2 separate regions of the Homo sapiens genome follow, and region 1 is linked to region 2. Evidence: fine-mapped expression QTL. A gene starts in region 2. The other region holds a variant in brackets. All regions are shown on one strand. Distances are between the middles of the regions. Region 1 overlaps CNTN4 (contactin 4). Region 2 holds the start of CNTN4-AS1 (CNTN4 antisense RNA 1).

Region 1 (10,901 bases), 16 kb before region 2:
GGAGGTAAATGAATCACAGAATAAAAGGAACGTACACGCATCGAAGCTATTTTATTATTTTCCTCCATGTTAGACATAGCTGGGAAGTTTCCTCCTCTGTTTTTAACAGTGAAAATTCATTTGGGTTCAGACACTCCCTCTCACGTAGCTAATGGCTAGCAGGAAGGACGGCACTTGCCCATCCATTGTTGAGGCAAGTTTTAATTCAATCCATCACAGTAAAAACAATTATGAAGGGAAGACAACACACGTTACAAAAAAAAATAAAGAAGGCTGTTTCAGAGAAAACTAGTTTTTCTTTTCTTCCTGAATTGCTGCATGGCCAATTGATTTAAAACGTCTGCCAGCAATAGATTCAGTGCACCAGCACAATTTCCTGGCAATTGGCTTTGCTTCTAGAAGGGGCCCTCTTTTAGGAGGTATTTTTTAAAACAACCTGGAGGAAAGTTAGTCACCAATTTATTAAAAATTGGCTTTGAGAGAAGAGGTGGGAGCTTTAGAAAGGGTTCTTCATGTTTTTGAAAGATTCTAAACAGCCCCAGAAATTAAAATCTCTCATTTACCCAAAGCACAGCAGTGAAAGAAATCACTCATCCCTCCAGCTGAACTCTTCCCTCTGAGAGGGAGGATCTTCAGCCAAGATGGTTTTTCTTCCTTCAGTGAGATCTTTTGTCTATTTGGCAATGGAAGAAGATTAGTATTAGAGGATACGTGTTGGAAATGTGGTTTTTCAGGAGACCGATGTCCAGTGTTTTTTTTTTTACAATCATTTCCAACCATTTCAGAGCTGGGTCTGCCCCATCAAAGAGCAAGCTCTGGACTGCAGATCCTCATTACGTTTTCAACCCTGTCCAGTACATCATAACTGTTTAAGATAGACTGACTGCAAGCCCTAAATTTAAAAGACTGTTAACAAAACGCCAAATAAGATGGGTGGAGAAGGATGTAGACAAGAATGTTACAAGGGAAACAAAAACGATTTTTGCATTTGAGTGAAACTACTGTGATTTCTGAAGACCACCTTCCTTCTTTCCCAGACGGTCCCTGAGGAATTACAGAATGGTCGAGGCTTTGGTTATGTGGTGGCCTTCCGGCCCTACGGTAAAATGATCTGGATGCTGACAGTGCTGGCCTCAGCTGATGCCTCTAGATACGTGTTCAGGAATGAGAGCGTGCACCCCTTCTCTCCCTTTGAGGTTAAAGTAGGTGTCTTCAACAACAAAGGAGAAGGCCCTTTCAGTCCCACCACGGTGGTGTATTCTGCAGAAGAAGGTATCGTTTATGCTGCCTAGATCATTGACTGTTAATATTTCTTCAATTCTAAAATGTGGATTGTAGCACGTACAATCAATTTCGCATGGTACATGTATCTTGAAGGCATACCTGATTTGAGAAGAGGATAATGTAAACAATTTGGTTCGCTGTCCACCATGAATCTCTTGAAAAGATAGCGACTGCTCTGTATATGAAAACACTTGGCTGTCCATTATTGATTCCATTGCTAAGGACCAGAATTGCAAATACCATATAAGATCTTCATATCTATCTATATGTTATCATTACTTTCAAAAGAATTTTATTTTTGCCTTTAAGTGAATATCAAAATATAATTTGCATTTTCTTACCACTTGTATTTTCATAAAGCATATGGTACTTGTGGCTCACACCTGTAATCCCAACACTTTTGGGAGGCCAAGGCGGGTGGATCACCTGAGGTTGGGAGTTCGGGACCAGCCTGACCAATATGGAGAAAACCCATCTCTACTAAAAATATAAAATTAGCCAGTTGTAGTGGCACATCCCTGTAATCCCAGCTACTCAGGAGGCTGAGACAGGAGAATCACTTGAACCCAGGAGGCGGAGGTTGCGGTGAGCCGAGATCGCACCACTGCACTCCAGCCTGGGCAACAAGAGCAAAACTCCATCTCAAAAAAAAAAAAAAATCTCACTTATTAAAGAAAAGAGTAAGTCATGAAGCAGTGTGATTGCGCTCACTGTCATCCACACCATCATTATGTTTAACATTTCTCACACATTATTATCACCTCCATGCTATCCCTGCTCTCGGGATGCCTCTCACACAGTCTTCGTTACCTTTGGAGTTCGTCTATGTTGTTTTAAAGATGATGCTCAGAATGGGACCATGTTAAAACATCTGAAAGGTGAATCATTGATTTAGAGTCAGTGAAGATGCAATAACTTATTCCCAATCAGAGAGATCATCCCCTTAGACTCAGTAGCCCTCCATGATCTAGCTGCTGCCTCTCTGTCTGCCTCAGCTGCTGATGCCTTTCCCTGCATATTTCATGTTCCAACCATTGCCAAAGGATTTACAATTATTCAAACAAGCTTCAGCCCTTTTCATAGCCTTCAACTTCTCTTAGATAATAGTTCATGTCTCTGGATTATGAAAATGAGAGGAAAAGGGGAAAAGGACAGTCAGCTGACTTGACTAAGATTCAAGAGAGCTGGATGACACTTCAGGTTCACACTGCAATCTGTATGATCTTGGATAACTCAGGTATACTCTGTGGGCCTCAGCATCTTTGGCTGCAAAGGAGAGGCTAGACTGACTGTTTCCCAAATTTCAGTTATTTTTGCCAGATTTCTGCCATAGCTGTGTACCATTTGTATATGTTCACATTTTTCTTTCAATAGTCTTCCTTAAAAAAAATTTAGTGGGCAAGCACAGTGGCTCATGCCTGTAATCCCAGCACTTTGGGAGGGGGATGTGGGAGGATAGCATGAGCCTAGGAGTTTGAGACCAACCTGGGCAACATAGCAAGATCCAAGTCTTTACAAAAAAACATTAGCCAGGCGTGTTGGCACATGTGTGTGTGGTCCCAGCTACTTGGGAGGCTGAGGCGGGAGGATGGCTTGAGCTCAGGAGGTCAGGCTGCAGTGAGCCATGATTGTGCCACTACATTCCAGCCTAGGTGACAGAGTGAGACCCTATTTCAAAAAAGAAAAAGAGAAGCAGTTTAGCCATGTCGTAAGCAATAACATTTGTGAGATGCTAATTAAGAAGGATCTGTGTTAAGGGAATTGCTGGCTATGAAAACTTGGTGCTTAAACTTAAGTGGTTCTTCTCTTCTACCCACACCTAAATTCAGAACCCAAACACTGGACAAATATTCACTACCACCAACTCCAGCTATTAATCACTGCCCCTCTGCAAAATGAGGGTTTGGCTTACAATCATTAAGGACGATTCTATAACCATGAATTATTTTACCTTATAATGCTAGTATCTACAATCCTGTCCTAATATAGCTGATAGAGTAATAACTATCTCCATATTCATCTACAGAACCCACCAAACCACCAGCCAGTATCTTTGCCAGAAGTCTTTCTGCCACAGATATTGAAGTTTTCTGGGCCTCCCCACTGGAGAAGAATAGAGGACGAATACAAGGTTATGAGGTAGGCAAGACATATGTGCCTTGGGTCTGAAAGAGAGTCTATGCCCCTTGATAAGTCCTCCAAGTCACATTCTTATAGGAAGAGACCCACATTCCCACTAAGAGGCATTGGTTTTAGGCCTGGCTTCCAGCTGAACATTAATGGAAGCATTGAATACTCAGCTGTGAGACTACCCTTTTTCTATGTTATATTCTAGAGGTATTTTTCGAATTATATGCAAATCTAAGCATTTACGGGATGGTTGGCAAAATGAGCTTTGACTTCTGATATGCCCAGGATCACTTTGACTCAAAACAAACATGGGAAAAAAGAAAATAATGAACGACGGTTGTGTCAATGTACCGTCTCACTAGGAAGCTAAGGACAAAAAAGGGACCCTTCTTACTTTGGATAATTTCTCAGGATATACAGAGTCCTTTGTCCTGATAGCTCTGCTCATGATGTAGTATAGAAAACTAACTCCATCATAAGAATCTGCGTACAAAATTACCTGATGACATTGCAAATATCCCCATTGGGTATGGTTTCCAAGGTCTTTCTGTTTATCTTCTTAGGTTAAATATTGGAGACATGAAGACAAAGAAGAAAATGCTAGAAAAATACGAACAGTTGGAAATCAGACATCAACAAAAATCACGAACTTAAAAGGCAGTGTGCTGTATCACTTAGCTGTCAAGGCATATAATTCTGCTGGGACAGGCCCCTCTAGTGCAACAGTCAATGTGACAACCCGAAAGCCACGTAAGAACAGACTTGCTCAGAAATATTTTGGGGATTCATCACACATATCCCAAGTTTATTCCTTATCCCCACCTCCCAATGATCATTTGCATACTAATTAGTAGCATGTGGATTCAAATTTCCCTCAGCATTTTAACTGAACCTTTCCGTATACCACGCAAAATTCATTGCTGTGGAGGACAGAAAGATAAATGTTTTTCTCCTCACTGGGAAGGGCTACTTCTTTTAGCTATAAATGTTAGGCGACCAACTGAATCTTTTTCCATTTGCAATGCTGTATCTCATCAGATTTTAGTGACCTTGAAGACACATATTAGTGCAATAGCCCATTAAATTGCCTCCACTCTCGAATTCTAGTAAGGAGATATTCCTCAGAATCCATTGAGACTTAATAATCTGTGACTTCGTATATCTTAATTTTTTTATAGCACCAAGTCAACCCCCCGGAAACATCATATGGAATTCATCAGACTCCAAAATTATCCTGAATTGGGATCAAGTGAAGGCCCTGGATAATGAGTCGGAAGTAAAAGGATACAAAGTAGGTAATTTCTTTTTTGCAAAGGCACCTAATCGTGCTGTGAGTGGGGGCAGTCTCCTCCATGAATTATACAGTTGTCTGCATTGTCAGTTTCCCTGGTGATGCTCTCCTACCCTCTAGGAATCGCTGCCTCCAACACGGTTTGATCTGAGTTGTATAAATAGTCTATGGCAATTGGTCAGGATTTAGACAATCACCTTAACTTTAGTCTCAGGCAGCATCAATCAGAAATGGATAAAGACCCTGTGTTTGGGTCTCCAAAAATACCCTGAAGAACCACTTTTTAAACATTCCTACTGTCAGCTTCGTTTTGCTCCTGTCTCGGTTTATATATATTTTTTAGTCAACTTAGTAGCCTCCTGATATTACCAATGATTAATCATTTTTGTTCGTATGTTTCTATAGTCAAGAGTTATATAAAGAAAAAGAGAAAAGAGAGAAAAAGCAGGAAAAGTGGAGAAAATGTTTGCCTGACCCCATAAATGTTGGCTTGTCTTTAATGAGAAAATGAAAAGAACATGTCTGTAGCCTTCTTGCAGCAATCAAAAAGGGTTATAAATATCTTGCAACGTTTCCAGCTACCTATTTGCTACCTAACAAACCAACCTGAAGCTAGGGGCTAAAACAGCAACAGTGTATCATTTTTTATGACTTTGCAATGTGGATAGGGCCAGAATGGACAGATTTTAGGGCTGGAATAACTAAGATGCTTCTTCACACACTTTTGGCTTCTTGGATGGGATAGGTGGGAAAGCTGAGGCTGGCCAGTGATCATGCTCTCTATGAGGCCTTTCCCCACGGATAACCTGGGCTTCCTCACAGTATGGTGACCTCAGAGTAGTCGGATTTCTTACATAGTTGTCAGCTTCAAGAGGAAGAAAGCAGAAGCTGCCAGCCCTTTTAAAAGCTAAGGATGGACGTGGGCAGTTCCAAGATGGCCAAATAGGAACAGCTCCAGTCTATAGCTCCCAGCGTGAGCAACGCAGTAGACTGGTGATTTCTACATTTCCAACTGAGGTACTGGGTTCATCTCAATGGGGCTTGTCGGACAGTGGGCGCAGGACAGTGGGGGAAGTGCACCGAGCATAAGCTGAAGCAGGGCGAGGCATCGCCTCACCTGGGAAGGGCAAAGGGTCAAGGAATTCCCTTTCCTAGCCAAGCAAAGCTGTGACAGACAGCACCTGGAAGATCAGGGCACTCCCACCCTAATACTAATACTGCGCTTTTCCAATGGTCTTAGCAAACGGCACACCAGGAGATTATATCCCATGCATGGCTCAGAGGGTCCCATGCCCGGCTCAGAGGGTCCCATGCCCACAGAGCCTTGCTCGTTGCTAGCACAGCAGTCTGAGATCGAACTGCAAGGCAGCAGTGA[G/C]GCTGGGGGAGGGGGCGCCTGCCATTGCTGAGGCTTGAGTAGGTAAATAGCGGCCTGGAAGCTCAAACTGGGTGGAGCCCACTGCAGCTCAAGGAGGCCTGCCTGCCTCCTTGCCCTCTGGGGGCAGGGCATAGCCAAACAAAAGGCAGCAGAAACCTCTGCAGACTTAAATGTCCCTGTCTGACAGCTTTGAAGAGAATAGTGTTTCCCCCAGCACGGAGTTTGAGATCTGAGAATGGACAGACTCCCTCCTCAAGTGGTTCCCTGACCCCCGAGTAGCCTAACTGGGAGGTACCCCCCAGTAGGGGCAGACTGACACCTCACACAGCCAGGTACCCCTCTGAGACAAAACTTCCAGAGGAACGATCAGGCAGCAACATTTGCTGTTCAGCAATATTTGCTGTTTTGCAGCCTCCGCTGCTGAAACCCAGGCAAACAGGGTCTGGAGTGGACCTCCAGCAAACTCCAGCAGACCTGCAGCTGAGGGTCCTGACTGTTAGAAGGAACACTAACAAACAGAAAGGACATCCACACCAAAACCCCATCTGTACGTCACCATCATCAAAGACCAAAGGTAGATAAAACCACAGATATGGGGAAAAAATAGAGCAGAAAAACTGAAAATTCTAAAAATCAGAGCACCTCTCCTCCTCCAAAGGAACGCACCTCCTCACCAGCAATGGAAAAAGCTGGATGGAGAATGACTTTGATGAGTTGAGAGAAGAAGGCTTCAGATGACCAAACTTCTCCGAGCTAAAGGAGGAAGTTCGAACCCATCCCAAAGAAGTTGAAAACCTTGAAAAAAGGTTAGACAAATGGCTAACTAGACTAACCAATGTAGAGAAGTCCTTAAATGACCTGATGGAGCTGAAAACCATGGCACGAGAACTACATGACGAAGGCACAAGCTTCAGTAGCCAATTCGATCAGCTGGAAGAAAGGGTACCTGTGATGGAAGATCAAATGAATGAAATGAAGCAAGAAGAGAAGTTTAGAGAAAAAAGAATGAAAAGAAACGAACAAAGCCTCCAAGAAATAAGGGACTATGTGAAAAGACCAAATCTACGTCTGATTGGTGTACCTGAAAGTGACGGGGAGAATGGAACCAAGTTGGAAAACACTCTGCAGGATATTATCCAGGAGAACTTCCCCAGCCTAGCAAGGCAGGCCAACATTCAAATTCAGGAAATACAGAGAATGCCACAAAGATAGTCCTCGAGAAGAGCAACTCCAAGACACATAATTGTCAGATTCACCAAAGTCGAAATGAAGGAAAAAATGTTAAGGGCAGCCAGAGAGAAAGGTCAGGTTACCCACAAAGGGAAGCCCATCAGACTAATAGCGGATCTCTTGGCAGAAACTCTACAAGCCAGAAGAGAGTGGGGGCCAATATTCAACATTCTTAAAGAAAAGAATTTTCAATCCAGAACTTCATATCCAGCCAAACTAAGCTTCATCAGTGAAGGAGAAATAAAATCCTTTACAGACAAGCAAATGCTGAGAGATTTTGTCACCACCAGGCCTGCCCTAAAAGTGCTCCTGAAGGAAGCACTAAACATGGAAAGGAACAGCCAGTACCAGCCTCTGCAAAAACATGCCAAATTGTAAAGACCATTGATGCTAGGAAGAAACTGCATCAACTACCGAGCAAAATAACCAGCTAACATCATAATGACAGGATCAAATTCACACATAACAATATTAACCTTAAATGTAAATGGGCTAAATGCTCCAATTAAAAGACACAGATGGCAAATTGGATAGAGTCAAGACCCATCAGTGTGCTGTATTCAGGAAACCTGTCTCACGTGCAGGGACACACATAGGCTCAAAATAAAGGGATGGAGGAAGATCTACCAAGGAAATGGAAAACAAAAAAAAGGCAGGGGTTGCAATCCTAGTCTCTGATAAAACAGACTTTAAACCAACAAAGATCAAAAGAGACAAAGAAGGCCATTACATAATGGTAAAGGGATCAATTCAACAAGAAGAGCTAACTATCCTAAAAATATATGCACCCAATACAGGAGCACCCAGATTCATAAAGCAAGTCCTGAGTGACCTGCAAAGAGACTTAGACTCCCACACAATAATGACGGGAGACTTTAACACCCCACTGTCAACATCAGACAGATCAACGAGACAGAAAGTTAACAAGGATATCCAGGAATTGAACTCAGCTCTGCACCAAGCAGACCTAATAGACATCTACAGAACTCTCCACCCCAAATCAACAGAATATACATTCTTCTCAGCACCACATCGCACTTATTCCATAATTGACCTCATAGGTGGAAGTAAAGCACTCCTCAGCAAATGTAAAAGAATAGAAATTACAACAAACTGTCTCTCAGACCACAGTGCGATCAAACTAGAACTCAGGATTAAGAAACTCACTCAAAACCGCTCAACTACATGGCAACTGAACAACCCGCTCCTGAATGACTACTGGGTACATAACGAAATGAAGGCAGAAATAAAGATGTTCTTTGAAACCAACGAGAACAAAGACACAACATACCAGAATCTCTGGGACACATTCAAAGCAGTGTGTAGAGGGAAATTTATAGCACTAAATGCCCACAAGAGAAAGCAGGAAAGATCTAAAATTGACACCCTAACATCACAATTAAAAGAACTAGAGAAGCAAGAGCAAACACATTCAAAAGCTAGCAGAAGGCAAGAAATAACTAAGATCAGAGCAGAACTGAAGGAGATAGAGACACAAAAAACCATTCAAAAAATCAGTGAATCCAGGAGCTGGTTTTTTGAAAAGATCAACAAAATTGATAGACTGCTAGCAAGACTAATAAAGAAGAAAAGAGAGAAGAATCAAATAGATGCAATAAAAAATGATCAAGGGGATATCACCACCCTTGAGAGTGGGTAACAGGGTTAGACCAGATGGTAGGAAAGGACACTTTCTGAGTTCTTCTTAATTTCCAGCTCAGTCACTCCCCCTTCTTTTTAGGAGTGGTACTGGAAGAGCCAGACACCCTACACCTCCTCAACTACACCCCAAGGAAGGTCACTGTAACTGGCTATACATTTTGAATTGCTACATATACATGTGAATGTTTAGAGATACATAATTTAAAGCTACAGGTATCCACAGGTTCCATACTCTCAAATGTGGATCAAAAATATTCAGGAAAAAAAACACACAAAAAAATACAATGAAAATGACACAGATTTTAAAAACAATACAGTATAACAACTATTTACATACCATTTACATTATATTAGGTATTATGAGTAATCTAAAGTTGATTTAAAGTATACGGAAAGATATGCTTAGGTTATACACAAATTCTATACCATTGTATATCCAGGACTTGAGTATCCACAGATTTTGGTATTTTAGGGAGGTCCTGAAGCCAGTTCCCTGAATTACCAAGGTACCAATGAATAACTCTCTCTCTTTCTCTCTCTCTCTCTGTGTGTGTGTGTGTGTGTGTGTGTGTGTATTTGTGTGTGTGTATGTGTGGTACCTCCCGTGATATCTCACGTCCCATGATAGCTCAGGAAACTCTCCCTAGTGTCACTTTTAGGGTGAGATTAGAGGCTGAATAAAAAGCGGATCTGATTGCAACGGAAGAGTTGACCTTTGCTAGAGAATTTGACCCATTAAATATGGCTATTGTTTATCTCAGACTGACCCTTTCCAAAATTAAGTTTTCCTCCCAAATACTGAACATGTTGGGGTGTGGGTTTATTTTCCCTTCTTCACTAAGTTGTCTGAATTCTTTAGATCTCAGCTTAGGTAGACAGTCTCAACAAGAAGCTGACTTTAGAAAGTTTAAGGCCCCAAATATTTTGTCAACACAAATCCTTAAGCTACTTTATGGCATTAGAGCTAAAAGGAGAGCATCTGGTTTTAGTATCACAAATTAAACTACCTGCAGGGCCAGGCAGATAACATAAATGAGTTCTGTTCAGTCCATTCAGAAACTACTACTAATACGTCTACTAAGCACTGTTCCAATTCATCTTAACTTTATATTTTATTTTGTTGTATTTTGAGACAGAGTCTCCCTCTGTCACGCAAGGTGGAGTGTAGTGGTACAATCTTGGCTCACTGCAACCTCCGCCTCCAGGGTTCAAGCAGTTCTCCTGCCTCAGCCTCCCAAGTAGCTGAGACTACAGGCGCCCACCACCACGACTGGCTGATTTTTGTATTTTTAGTAGAGATGGAGTTTCACCATGTTGGCCAGGCTGGTCTTAAACTCCTGACCTCAGGTGATCCGCCTGCCTCAGCCTCCCAAAGTGCTGGGATTACAGGCATGAGCCACCATGCCTGGCCTCATCTTAACTGTATAATAACCATGAAGATAGGTACAGTTATTATTGCTAGTTTTACGGATGAAGAGCTGTGGCATAGAGTTTAGTCACTTGCCTTTCACACAGCTGGTATGTTGAAGACCTGGGATCCGAATACAGCAGTATGGATCCTGAGTTCTACATTTAGCCACTTGGTGCTTCTGCCTACCAGCCATAAATAAATAGAATAAGTGATAACAAAGTACTGCAGAGAAAAAGAGGCTAGAGTGAGGGGAATAGAGAAAGCCATGGAGTGGACAGGAGAGATGTATTATTTTATAGAAAGGCCAAGGAAAGCCACTTTTAAGTGGTGAGATTTCAGTTGGGCCTTGGCACCTCTCTGGGAATGTCCCAAGTACTGCAAAAAAGGAAGTGCAAAGGTCCAGAGGTAGGCATGTGACAATGTAGCAACATTGGAAGTGTTGGGACTATCACCAACTGCAGAGTTTGTGATTGTTCAGAATGAGACTTCTCAACTCCAACCAGTTGTTGGCAGACAGG
Region 2 (10,901 bases):
TTCAAGACATTGGTAAAAAGATGATATTTTAAATTATGGACAAAATCCTCACCACCATCCTGACTTTTAGCCATGTGACATCCCTCTGCTAAGGGGTGATATGCCAGTGTTTCTGGATGGAGTTTATATTTACTGCATCTTTTTTGCATACAAACACAAAAGGCATTTTTGTCTTAAAAGGGGGACAATTGGATTATACTTTATCAAACAAAGCCTCTAACTTCTATCGAAAGGGAGCTAGATTTTTGGTGAGATGTGGAAGTAAAATCTCCAGGCCACAAAAATACAAGATTGGGGCTTATCTCGCTTCATTAAAAATCTGACTTTATACTTCATACTTTCTTATCATTGCAGGGATTGACATTTTTAGATAGACTGATGATTCCTGGTTTTATTCATTACAAAAACATATATTAAGCAATTATATTGGTGTAATTATTAGATAACAAGGAAGTGACTGTGAACCAAACATGATCTGTTTCAAGAGATTTTTCATCATGTTGGTCAAAGAGACCTTACAAGATTGAAGAACCCCCGAATGACAGTTGATAGCTTCTTACTATGAAAAGTGTAAGACCCATAAGAAAATTTAAAAAAGGATTGAGGCTATTTTGTTTGCAGAAAAGGGGTAGATTTAGACAGACATGGGTTTGAACCCCAGTTTAGCCATTTACTAGCTGGGTGATCTTAGATAAGTTACTTTATTTCTCTGGGCGCAAATTACCGCCATCTGTTAAGCGAGGTAATAATAATACCTGGCCTTCATCCAGTTTTTGCAAGATTTAAGTGTCATATTCATCTGTGCCCAGCAGAAAGATAGAGTTCAAAAGGGAGCAGCAATTTTCATTTTGTTGAATCATCGACATAGCATGCTGTTTATCAGTATTGTTACTAGTAATATTGAAGTTTCTTCTCACATTAGATAGGAACCTCCTTACTTTACAAATGCTTTGACAGAGGTACAGGGCTGTCCTATACCCTACTCCCAGGTTTGTAGCTTGGTAGTCATAGAACTGATATTTAAAAGCCATTAAGACCTTGATCATCATTTCCAGTAGAATCCATGCAGTTCTGCTGTTTCAAAAAGCCCCGTGGCCCCTCTTCCCTTTGAAGCCGGGATGGGGCTGTTTTGAGTGAATTTGTTCTCTCTTTTCAGATGCCTACGCGAGAGGATCTGGGGCTTCCACTTCGAATGCATGTACGCTGTCAGCCATCAGTACAATAATGATTTCCCTCACAGCTAGGTCCAGTTTATGACAAAAGTTATCTGAAGGACTTGCTGTTTATAATATAAGCAACATTTAGCTAGTTGTTTTGAAGACACCCAGTACTAAGTAATATTGTTGTTCAAGTACATCTTATTACTGGAATAAAAATGTTTTTTGCTTCTTTAGGAATGGCATTATACAGTACTTCCTCAAAGCAAATCTAGCTTTGTCTGAAGTTTCTTTGGAAACTCTGCAATGCACTGAAGACATCTGTAATATGATGTTACCAAAGCAGTTTACATATGTCCTTATATGCATATTTTTTATTATATATTTAGTGTTTTATAGAATTTTTTAAAGTTAACATATAATGTAGATATTAATTTTTTCCTCGGCTGTAAAATGCTATGGGCAACACAATCATGCAATTATAATTTGAAAATATTTCCTTTAAAGACAGAGTTTGAAACTCATCTTGGTAAATAAATTGCAAATTACTCGTACAGTTTTACAAGGATCTCATGGCAGAACAGCGGAAGACTTGGTCCGTAACTCAAGGCTGTTGTATGCAAACTACTCTTCTAGTGGTTAATGCACTTGACATGTACAGTATGTTTCCCATGCCGTTGTGATTTTGACATGTACAGTATGTTTTCATGCCGTTGTGAATTTTGTTGTTCAACCCAACTTGAGATGGTTTCAGGAATGGCTGCAATCTCAAAAGCTCAATGTACTGCCCAAGAGGCACCTTGTGCAATATTCCCATCCCTGAATTTAGCATTGTACAGGAAGATTTTCTTTTCACTCAACTGAGTTAGCATTGTCTTTGTGGTAGCATTATCTTAGACATTAAATTTGAAGTAACATATATCCTGTAGTAACATAGACCCAAAGTTACTATAGTCAACCAAGTCTTTCAAAGGATAAAAGATCATTTTATTATCTTTAACTGTATCTATTTTGAATGTAAATTTAAAAAAAGTAATTCTCTGTCAATGGATTCGTAATTTCTTTACAAAATTTCTTATATATAATATGTGTATCTCTGTAATAATAGAGCCCTTCTTTTGAATCAAAATTACATATGGACTTTGGAAGATTGCTCCTATTTCAACAAATAGTTGCTGCAAGAATTTTTAATATGACTCTATAAAAGCTCTTTAGTACAATTGTATGGTTTCTTGATGATTCTGTTTTGCAATAGGTAGCCTAGTTGCTTTATATGCTTTACCTTCTAGGTCTTAAAATCACACATTGGAAAATGACAATATCAACAAAACTGTATTCTTATGAAAAGAACTATTTGTTACAATGAGAAAGGTTTTGTGAGTAAACCCTACTGGACAGTGACATAAAAGGCAATGGAATTTTCTATAAACATTTTCTCATGTAAACATGCTGCCACCTTTTCTTCTTTCTCAGAGAACTCAAATTTGCTATAGTTTGTCATTTTTGCTTACAAATAATATAACTTTTCAACCTTCTAGTTATATTTATCCAATAAAGTCATAATCGGGATTCCATTTGTGTAAAAACTAGGGTGGTAACCGGAAAAAAATATTGTCAGTATTTCAAGCTGTGTTCCTTTCTTAGTTTGATATGGTTACTTCTATGTTGAAATAAAATTTAAAATCACATGCAAAAAAAAAATCAGCAAAATAATAAAATGAACGAAAAAAAATGACACCCAGGGAGTTCCCAACCCCAGTGTAAATGATATTTACCAGTGATCTAGCATATGTAATCTTTTTTAAAGGTATTGTTAATAAATATTCTGTCATTTGTAAAGATACTTGTCTTTCGGGAGCATTTTTCCTGCCTGCCTGTCAGGGAATTTGTTAGCTTACCTTTGTGCTAGTTATAATTTGGGATCATAGAGGGACTCAAAAGTCTCTACCCAAATCTAGATGACCCAGAGCTTTTCCTTTGGAATTGACAACCCTGAAGCACCATTTCAAATCCTCTTTGGAAGTAGAGAGGGTCCTAATCCACAAGTAAATGTCCTGAAGATGAGACTTGAATATTTTCTCTTGATTAGCTAAGTCTTTTGTATATTTACTGTAAGTATATCTGTTGTTTCCCTCACCCCCCATTGCTAAAAGGGTAAGTTCTAAGCTTGAGCATTTAAGGCTCTTTTTTTTTTGAGACGGAGTCTCACTCTTGTCACCCAGGCTGGAGTGCAATGTTGCGATCTCGGCTCACTGCAACCTCCGCCTCCCAGGTTCAAGCAATTCTCCTGCCTCAGCCTCCCGAGGCGCCCACCACTACACCGGACTAATTTTTGGATTTTTAGTAGAGACGAGATTTCACCATGTTAGTCAGGCTGGTCTCAAACACCTGACCTCAGGTGATCTGCCCGCCTCGGCCTCCCACAGTGCTGGGATTACAGGCTTGAGCCACCGCACCCGGCCCTTAAGGCCCTTTTTAATCCAAAACGATTTAACTGTGTATCCAGCCACAGTAAGCCCTCCCTGACCCCTGAACACTGCTTGCTTTTGGTCTCACCTCTGTGCCTTTGGTCTTATGGCTGCCCCTTCCTGAAATGCCTTCTCCACCCTTCTCTCCCATTCAGATCCCTGCTGTCCTAGGGTAGCTCCAGCCCCAGTTTGTCTGCAAAGACTTCCCATGCTTCAGTCCTTTATGACATTCTCGCTTGGAAGTAGTTGCATCCCCTATCAATGCTGCTCATTTAGTAATTAATCAGATACTACTTTTGGAAATCTCTTGTACTGTTATCTTGCATTTTAATTTAACTCCTGTATTGTTACTTACTTTTTCTTGTATGTATGGCTTGTCTTCCCAACTAGATTGTAAGCTCCTTGAGGGCAGGGACTTTGGTCTTATCTTCCATGTACTCTCCATAGTGCCTAGCACAGTGCCTTGCAATAAATACTCACTGATTAATTGAATGAAGGGGTCTTTGAAGTAGCATTTTGCATCAGTTGCCTGCCTGTGTGCCACAGCAAACCAACCAGGGAAGACTGTGTCATTACTTTCGTTATGTGCTGAAAAGCGTTAAAAGGCCTGGCTTCTAACTTTGTACCTGGAAGAAGTCTTTGACCAATTGGCTTCATCATCGGGTAAATGAGGTCCTGGATTAGTTGAGTCTAACTGAATTGAAGATGTTTTAGAAAGTGCCCCATGAGCACCTCCACCCAAACTTGTCTCATTTGTTGGCTTTCATGGTTGCCTCAGGTAGGGTCCACTGGCTGTAAGCAAAGAAACGACCCTGGGTAACTTGAGCAAACAAAAAGTAAGGAATTAGAATGACACAGGTTACATCATATGAGCCAAGGAAACACTGAAGGACCAACTCTTGAGGAGAATAAGAACCAGGCCACTCTGTGGGTCCAGACAATGGGAACTTTGGAAAGTCTTTTTGGGGTGCTATTGTGGGGATGAATCAGCTTTGTTTCCAATTTTGACGCCATTATGCTCAATATTCAGATTCCTGGGAAAGTGATCAGTTCCATTTGAGTTCCACAGCCAGAGTACCTTGTACTCACAGGGGAGGGATAGTTAAAGGAAAACTAAGATGCTGTTTTCCAAAGGTAAGAGAAGAAATGCTGGGTTGGTATAAGTAACAGATTTTCTAGGCTTAGCCAGCCAAGGGGACTTTCTTAGGCCCTTAGCCCAAGTAATACACTCGAGTGGAATGACTATATTGCTGCTTGAGATTTTTTTCTGAAGGAGGACCACTAGGAAAATTTGCTTTGCTTGTTTAACCTTTCAAAGTGCTTACTCTTGCCCTCCTTTTTGTGTGTGTAGTCCACTTGTGATTTAACTGTATGAAAGGAAATTCTATTGTGCCAGATATTTGGATTCTCTCAGTGTACCTACTTTCTATGGAGCCCACACATGCTACATACAAAGCAGCACCTTTCCATGGGCACAGAAGACATGGATGATAAGCTTCATTTCTCAGGTAAGCTCTGAATTCTTCCAGCCTGTGAGGTAGAAGGTGCATAGACTTTGATATTAAGAAAGAATGATTGTGTTATTCCCACCATCAAAATTGTGGTTGTTTATATCCAGGAGGCAATGTTAAATCCTGATTAACCTTTACCCAGTCTCTTCCACCACCTTGCCTCACTACAAATATGCGCAAAGAATGTTGAGTTATAAAAAGTATACAAATAGCACATAATTAGCAACAAAAATGTCATGCAGTTTTTAATCTAATGTAATCAACCAACAGGTGATTTTTGTTCACTACATTGGATTATCGATGCTACTGTTCTCCTCCGTTAACACTTATAATCAAGAAGTGACTGTTATTTTCCTGTTGTTACAATTTACAAAATGTTCTGGCTAAAAACGTTATGTGGCCAACCATAGTGCTTTGAAAGGCAAGCCTTTAAAATCAAGGACTTATATTCAATCTGTGGACATACCCCAGATTTTTCCATTACAAAATGCCAGACACTGAGGCCTTACAAAGGCAGCCTAATACAAAGACTAAGGACGTGGATCCTGGAGTTTGACTGCCTGGGGTGCATTGTAATGATTGGCTACTTATTAGGGAGGATAAAGTTTGTAAAGCTCTCCAAACAGTGATGATTTTACCGTCTGTTATTGTTCTTTTTCTCCAGGGACTTTACTAGACCCACAGATGTAGGATGTGGATGCTTCTTATCACCAAAATGAGTGGAACTCAGCTGACACATCCATTATCACCTTTTATTTAAACATGATCACTTCTTAATATAAATTTTAATGTTCGATAATTTTAATCATACAATCAACTAATTCAAACTTAGGCAGTAGGGTTCCCATTCAGATGCCAGGTTTTGCACAAAGCCTCCCTCAGCTTCCCCATCTGAAATTGACCTTGCATTTCTCTGACCTCCAGGGGATGGGGTCTGTACCCACTCATGTCAGTCATCCCTTCGTACCTTATATTTAAATCATTTTTGTTGGTGTCTTCCGCCTTATAGTAGACACACGGCACCTCAGCGTTGGCATCTGGGTGTGGTTCCTCATTGTGCTCCCAGGCACAAGGCCTGTGTCACCTCCATCTCAGACCTAGAGGGAGGAGAATATCTGGCCCCGTTTCCTGTGATTTCCTCAGGCCCCCTGCCAGAGTGTGATTAGTAAATGCAAGTCAGGCTGCCCATTCTGCAAAGAGGCCCCGTTTCCCCTTGTGCTAAATGGGCCATGCGGATTAAATGTTCCAGCTCTGCAACTCACCTGCAAACTACAATACTCAACAGAGATCACAGTTTAAACAAAATTGGCCTCTATCCTTTATCACAAGCAGTTATGGGCCATGGTAGATTAGCAGAGCTCTAGTGATATAGATCACATAGAGAGAAAGCTTTTTTTAAAAAAGGTCAACCATATGATCGATCTGAAAGTCTGGAAATTGGAAGGCTGAGCTACTTAAATATAGATGCAATTACATGTGATATCCCCATTCTCTGTAAACTGGGTTTTTGCCACATATCCTTATTGTTAGGAATAACACGAACTATACCAGGAAATATATATGTCCTAGGACTTTAACAAATAGTAATATCTTTAATTTGTTTTTCTAGTTTTCAAAGTGCTTTTCACACTAATAAGGGGAGGACATAGGTTTTTATTCCTTTTTTATTTATGAAATGGAAGCAAAGAGGTTATATAAGAAGCCCAAAGTAACATAGACAATTAGAAAGTCAGGGCTGGGCATGGTGGCTCACACCTGTAATCCCAGCACTTTGGGAGACTGAGGTGGGGGGATCACAAGGTCAAGAGTTCGAGACCAGCCTGGCCAACATGGTGAAACCCCATTCCTACTAAAAATACAAAAATTAGCTGGGCATGGTGGCACGTGCTTGTAGTCCCAGTTACCCAGGAGGCTGAGGCAGGAGGATTGCTTGAACCTGGGAGGCAGAGGTTGTAGTGAGCTGAGATTGCCCTACTGCACTCTAGCCTGGGCAAGAGAGTGAGACTCTGTCTCAAACAAAAGAAAAAAAAAAAAAGAAGGACTAGAATTTAGAACATAGACTCATTAGTGCATTTCATACACCTAGAAATAAGTACTTAGAGAAAGGACAGGATGGAGTAAGGAACTAGACTCTGAAGTTCAACTAGAGAACATTCTAGGACAAGTAGGTAGGCCAGAGGAAATGGTGAGGTAGAAGGGTGAGATGTCTGAGGTTCAGATGCTGGAGGTGGAGAAGTTCTGAGTGCCGGCCAGGCCCAGGGCACAGCCATCTGGAGGAATGGGATAGGATAGGTGCCTGGAGAGGGTTTTAGTTATTCAGCAAGGGACTACTGGCAGCCCTCTCTGTACCAGGCACTATTCTGGGCATAGAAGAATGATGTGGCATTCAGATGTGTGTGAGGAAGCCAAGGCACCAGTAACAGTATTTTGTCACAATACAGAGAAATGCAATGATAATAATAATAGTAAACAGTGATTATGCTTATAATATGTGCCAGACTCAGTGCAAATCAACCTACCGATTTAGTTACCATTTATTATTCCTATTTTATACACAGAGGATTGAGGTTGACAGGTTCACATTTGTCCCTGATCACACAGTTGATCAGAGAGACCAGGAATTGAAATGCTGGTGGCTTGGGTTTAGGGCCCTACTCCAAAACATTAGATGTCTCTATCTGTAAATAGATGATACATAAACAATAAGGTAGGTAGATAGATAAATAGACAGATAGATACGGTTCCCATATAGCAACAAGAAGGAAAGGCAGTCATGAGCTTCAGTCTGCTCTAAAGTGGCTCAGCTTCTCTGCTTCTCTTTCCTTGACTGCAAATGTTGTTTTTTGCGTGTTCGTTGTCCTTGACTTCAGGTGTCTTAGAGCTGTTTCTTTAAACTCCGGCTACCCTTCAAGATCAGGATTACCCAATAAAATAGGAGAGGAGCTATTAAACTTAGATTTCAGATAAAAAAAAAATTATGCTTCCTTAGTATAAGTATGCCCCATGTGATATTTATTTGAAATTCAACTTTAACTGAGCCTCTTATTTTTATTTGCTAAATCTGGCAACCTGACACCAGGAGGTCTTCATTACTCTCATTGAAGTAATTAATTTGTAATTCAAAATTTCAGGGTCTTGCGAATGTGTTGTCAGATCTCTGAAGGTCAATGGCTCTGAGGGCGAGACATGAAGTTTGCTGTTTTGAGTTCTGTTTCGTTTGCTGAACTCTCCTTCCCACTTTTCCTTGGATGGTGTGAGGATGGGATGTGTGTGTGTCCAGAGAGACAGGGCTGGTGGGTGAAGTTCCTCTTAGAGCTGGCAGAAAAGAGGTTTTGTTTTTTTTTTGTTTGTTTTTTGAGACGGAATTTTGCTCTTGTTGCCCAGGATAGAGTGCAATGGCGCAATCTCGGCTCACTGCAACCTCCGCCTCCCGGGTTCAAGTGATTCTCCTGCCTCAGCGTCCTGAGTAGCTGGGATTACAAGCATGCGCCGCCACGCCTGGCTAATTTTGTATTTTTAGTAGAGACGGGTTTCTCCATGTTGGTCAGGCTGGTCTCGAACCCCTGATCTCAGGTGATCCACCCACCTTGGCTTCTCAAAGTGCTGAGATGACAGGCGTGAGGCACCGCACCCAGCCCAGAAAAGAGTTTTAAGACAAGGGAATCTTTCCCCAGCAAAGGCCCACATTATGTGGCAAGAAGGTGTTAAAGCAGGTGGAAGGGATTCCAGAAATATTCTGAAAGCTTAAAAAAATGGGTTTGTTGCCAGGAACATAGGCCACAGCACAGCTCGTTGGAAAACTATGTAGTGGACGCATCGTTTATCAACTGCAGTGTTGGGACCAAATATCCGAGACCAAATAACTGGCAGTTAGAATTGGCCCAGTTGTTCCTCTTGAATTTAGTGGTTAACAAATAAGATATTGAGTGCATACTATGTGTCAAGCACTTGCTGGGCACTGGAGAAACTGAGATAAATAGGGTTAAGGCTTCCCTCATGGTTCACTGAAGGAGACAGAAATACACTTATTGAAGGATGGTGTGAATAGTGTGACAGATAAAGGTATGAACACAATGCTGGACCTGTGTTTCTTGCAAAACCTACTTATAATGAGGTTAAGTTCAGTCAAACACAATTTTTTTTACCATTGATCCCCCAGGATAGAATATTTTCATTTGATTAAACATGATTATTTTCCCAAATTGGTTGCTTTTCTTAAAAAAAAGAAAAACACATTCATAAATATTTTGAATCCATTAAGCCATGTGTCAATATTGGCCCTCTGGGAAAATCTAGCTCATTGCCCGCTTTTTTTGTAAATCAAGATTTATTGCAACATAGCCATGCTGATTTATAGATTGCCTACGGCCACTCTGTGCTATCACGGAAGAACTGAGTGGCTGCCACAAAGACCATATGGTCCTCAAAGCTGAAAATATTTACTATCTAGCCCTTTAAGAAGAGTTTGCTGGCTCGTGCCTGTAATTCCAACACTTTGGGAGGCCAAGGGCTGGATGATCACTTGAGCCCAGTAGTTCAAGACCAGCCTGGGCAACATGGGAGACCCTGTGTCTACAAAAAAATTTTATAAATTAGCTGGGCATGGTGGCACACCCATGTGGTCCCAGCTACGCGAGAGGCTGAGGTGGGAGGATCATTTGAGCCCGGGAGGTCGAGGCTGGAGTGAACGGTGATCACAGCACTGCACTCCAGCCTTTCCAGCCTGGGTGAGACAGGAGACCCTGTCTTAAAAAAAAAAAAAAAAAGGCAGCAGCAGCTTGCCGACCTTTAAACTACGACACCAGTACTTTATTGCTGATTTCGTTCTTGCAATTTTCCCCTCAGGTTTCTGTGTTCTTCCAGTTTATTACTTGGCAGGGACAAATCTTTGCTTTTAATTTTAATAAATGAAACAAACCTAATAAAACACCTTCAAGTTGAAAAGAGTCCGCTAGAACTTTAAAATCATGCACATGGGCCATATGGGCGGCTTTGTGTTGCTCCTGACAACCAACAACGCAGATGTCTACTGAGAGCCAAATGGTGGGTGATGCCGGCCGCGGAGGTGGAGGGCAGCGTTTCTGAGACCAGCATCACACCCACTGTGAGTTTTTACTACTTCATTAATTTAAGCTCCAGTGACGATTTAACTTCTGCTATAACCACACAGCTTTAATAAATGAACCTACCATTAGAACATAGTTCTTTAGAATCTATATTGTTTTCCGTTCTTTTAAATGTTTAATAAGCTCACTTCCTTTTCCTTCGTCTGGTTACTCAACCAGCAGTCAGTTCCTCCTTGGGGCTTATGGACACAAAGATAAGTCAGACACTGCTCTTGGCCTCAGAGTGTTTGCACTGGAAACGAGACAGAGCATTGGTGAGGAGTCCAGGCCAGGTGCGGTGGCTCACGCCTGTCATCCCAGCACTTTGGGAGGCCGAGGCGGGTGGATCACGAGGTCAGGAGATCGAGACCATCCTGGCCAACATGGTGAAAACCCGTCTCTGCTAAAAATATAAAAATTAGCTGGCTGTGGTGGCACGTGCCTGTAGGCCCAGCTACTGGGGAGGCTGAGGCAGGAGAATGGCTTGAGACCCGGAGGCGGCGATTGCAGTGAACCGAGATCTCGCCACCGCACTCCAGCCTGGGCGACAGAGTCAGACTCTGTCTCAAAATAAATAAATAAATGAAAGTCCAATCACTGATAGAATTAAACAAAAGGAACATAGAGGGACACTTAATTCAAACTGGAAGTTGAGCAAAG

What was found. PIP is the estimated chance that this variant, and not a neighbour inherited with it, causes the effect.
Region 1: its variant is fine-mapped to the expression of CNTN4-AS1 in whole blood (INTERVAL, PIP 0.95).

The regions. Positions count from the first base shown.
Region 1 is chr3:3,039,000-3,049,900 of GRCh38, forward strand. It overlaps CNTN4 (contactin 4), which reads left to right. Exons shown (of 25, transcript NM_175607.3): 19 at 1-4; 20 at 1,038-1,272; 21 at 3,311-3,423; 22 at 3,978-4,164; 23 at 4,593-4,705. It overlaps CNTN4-AS1 (CNTN4 antisense RNA 1), which reads right to left. Exons shown (of 4, transcript NR_046554.1): 2 at 3,914-4,014; 3 at 2,046-2,155; 4 at 662-1,383. Among named protein-coding and RNA genes, the nearest start is that of CNTN4-AS1, 17 kb to the right of the region's middle. RefSeq lists an enhancer at 1-313. The variant G/C (reference allele first, on the strand shown) is at 6,081.
Region 2 is chr3:3,054,964-3,065,864 of GRCh38, forward strand. It overlaps CNTN4-AS1 (CNTN4 antisense RNA 1), which reads right to left and starts at 6,182. Exons shown (of 4, transcript NR_046554.1): 1 at 6,104-6,182. CNTN4 (contactin 4) reads left to right here. Exons shown (of 25, transcript NM_175607.3): 25 at 1,157-2,996. The coding sequence ends at 1,257.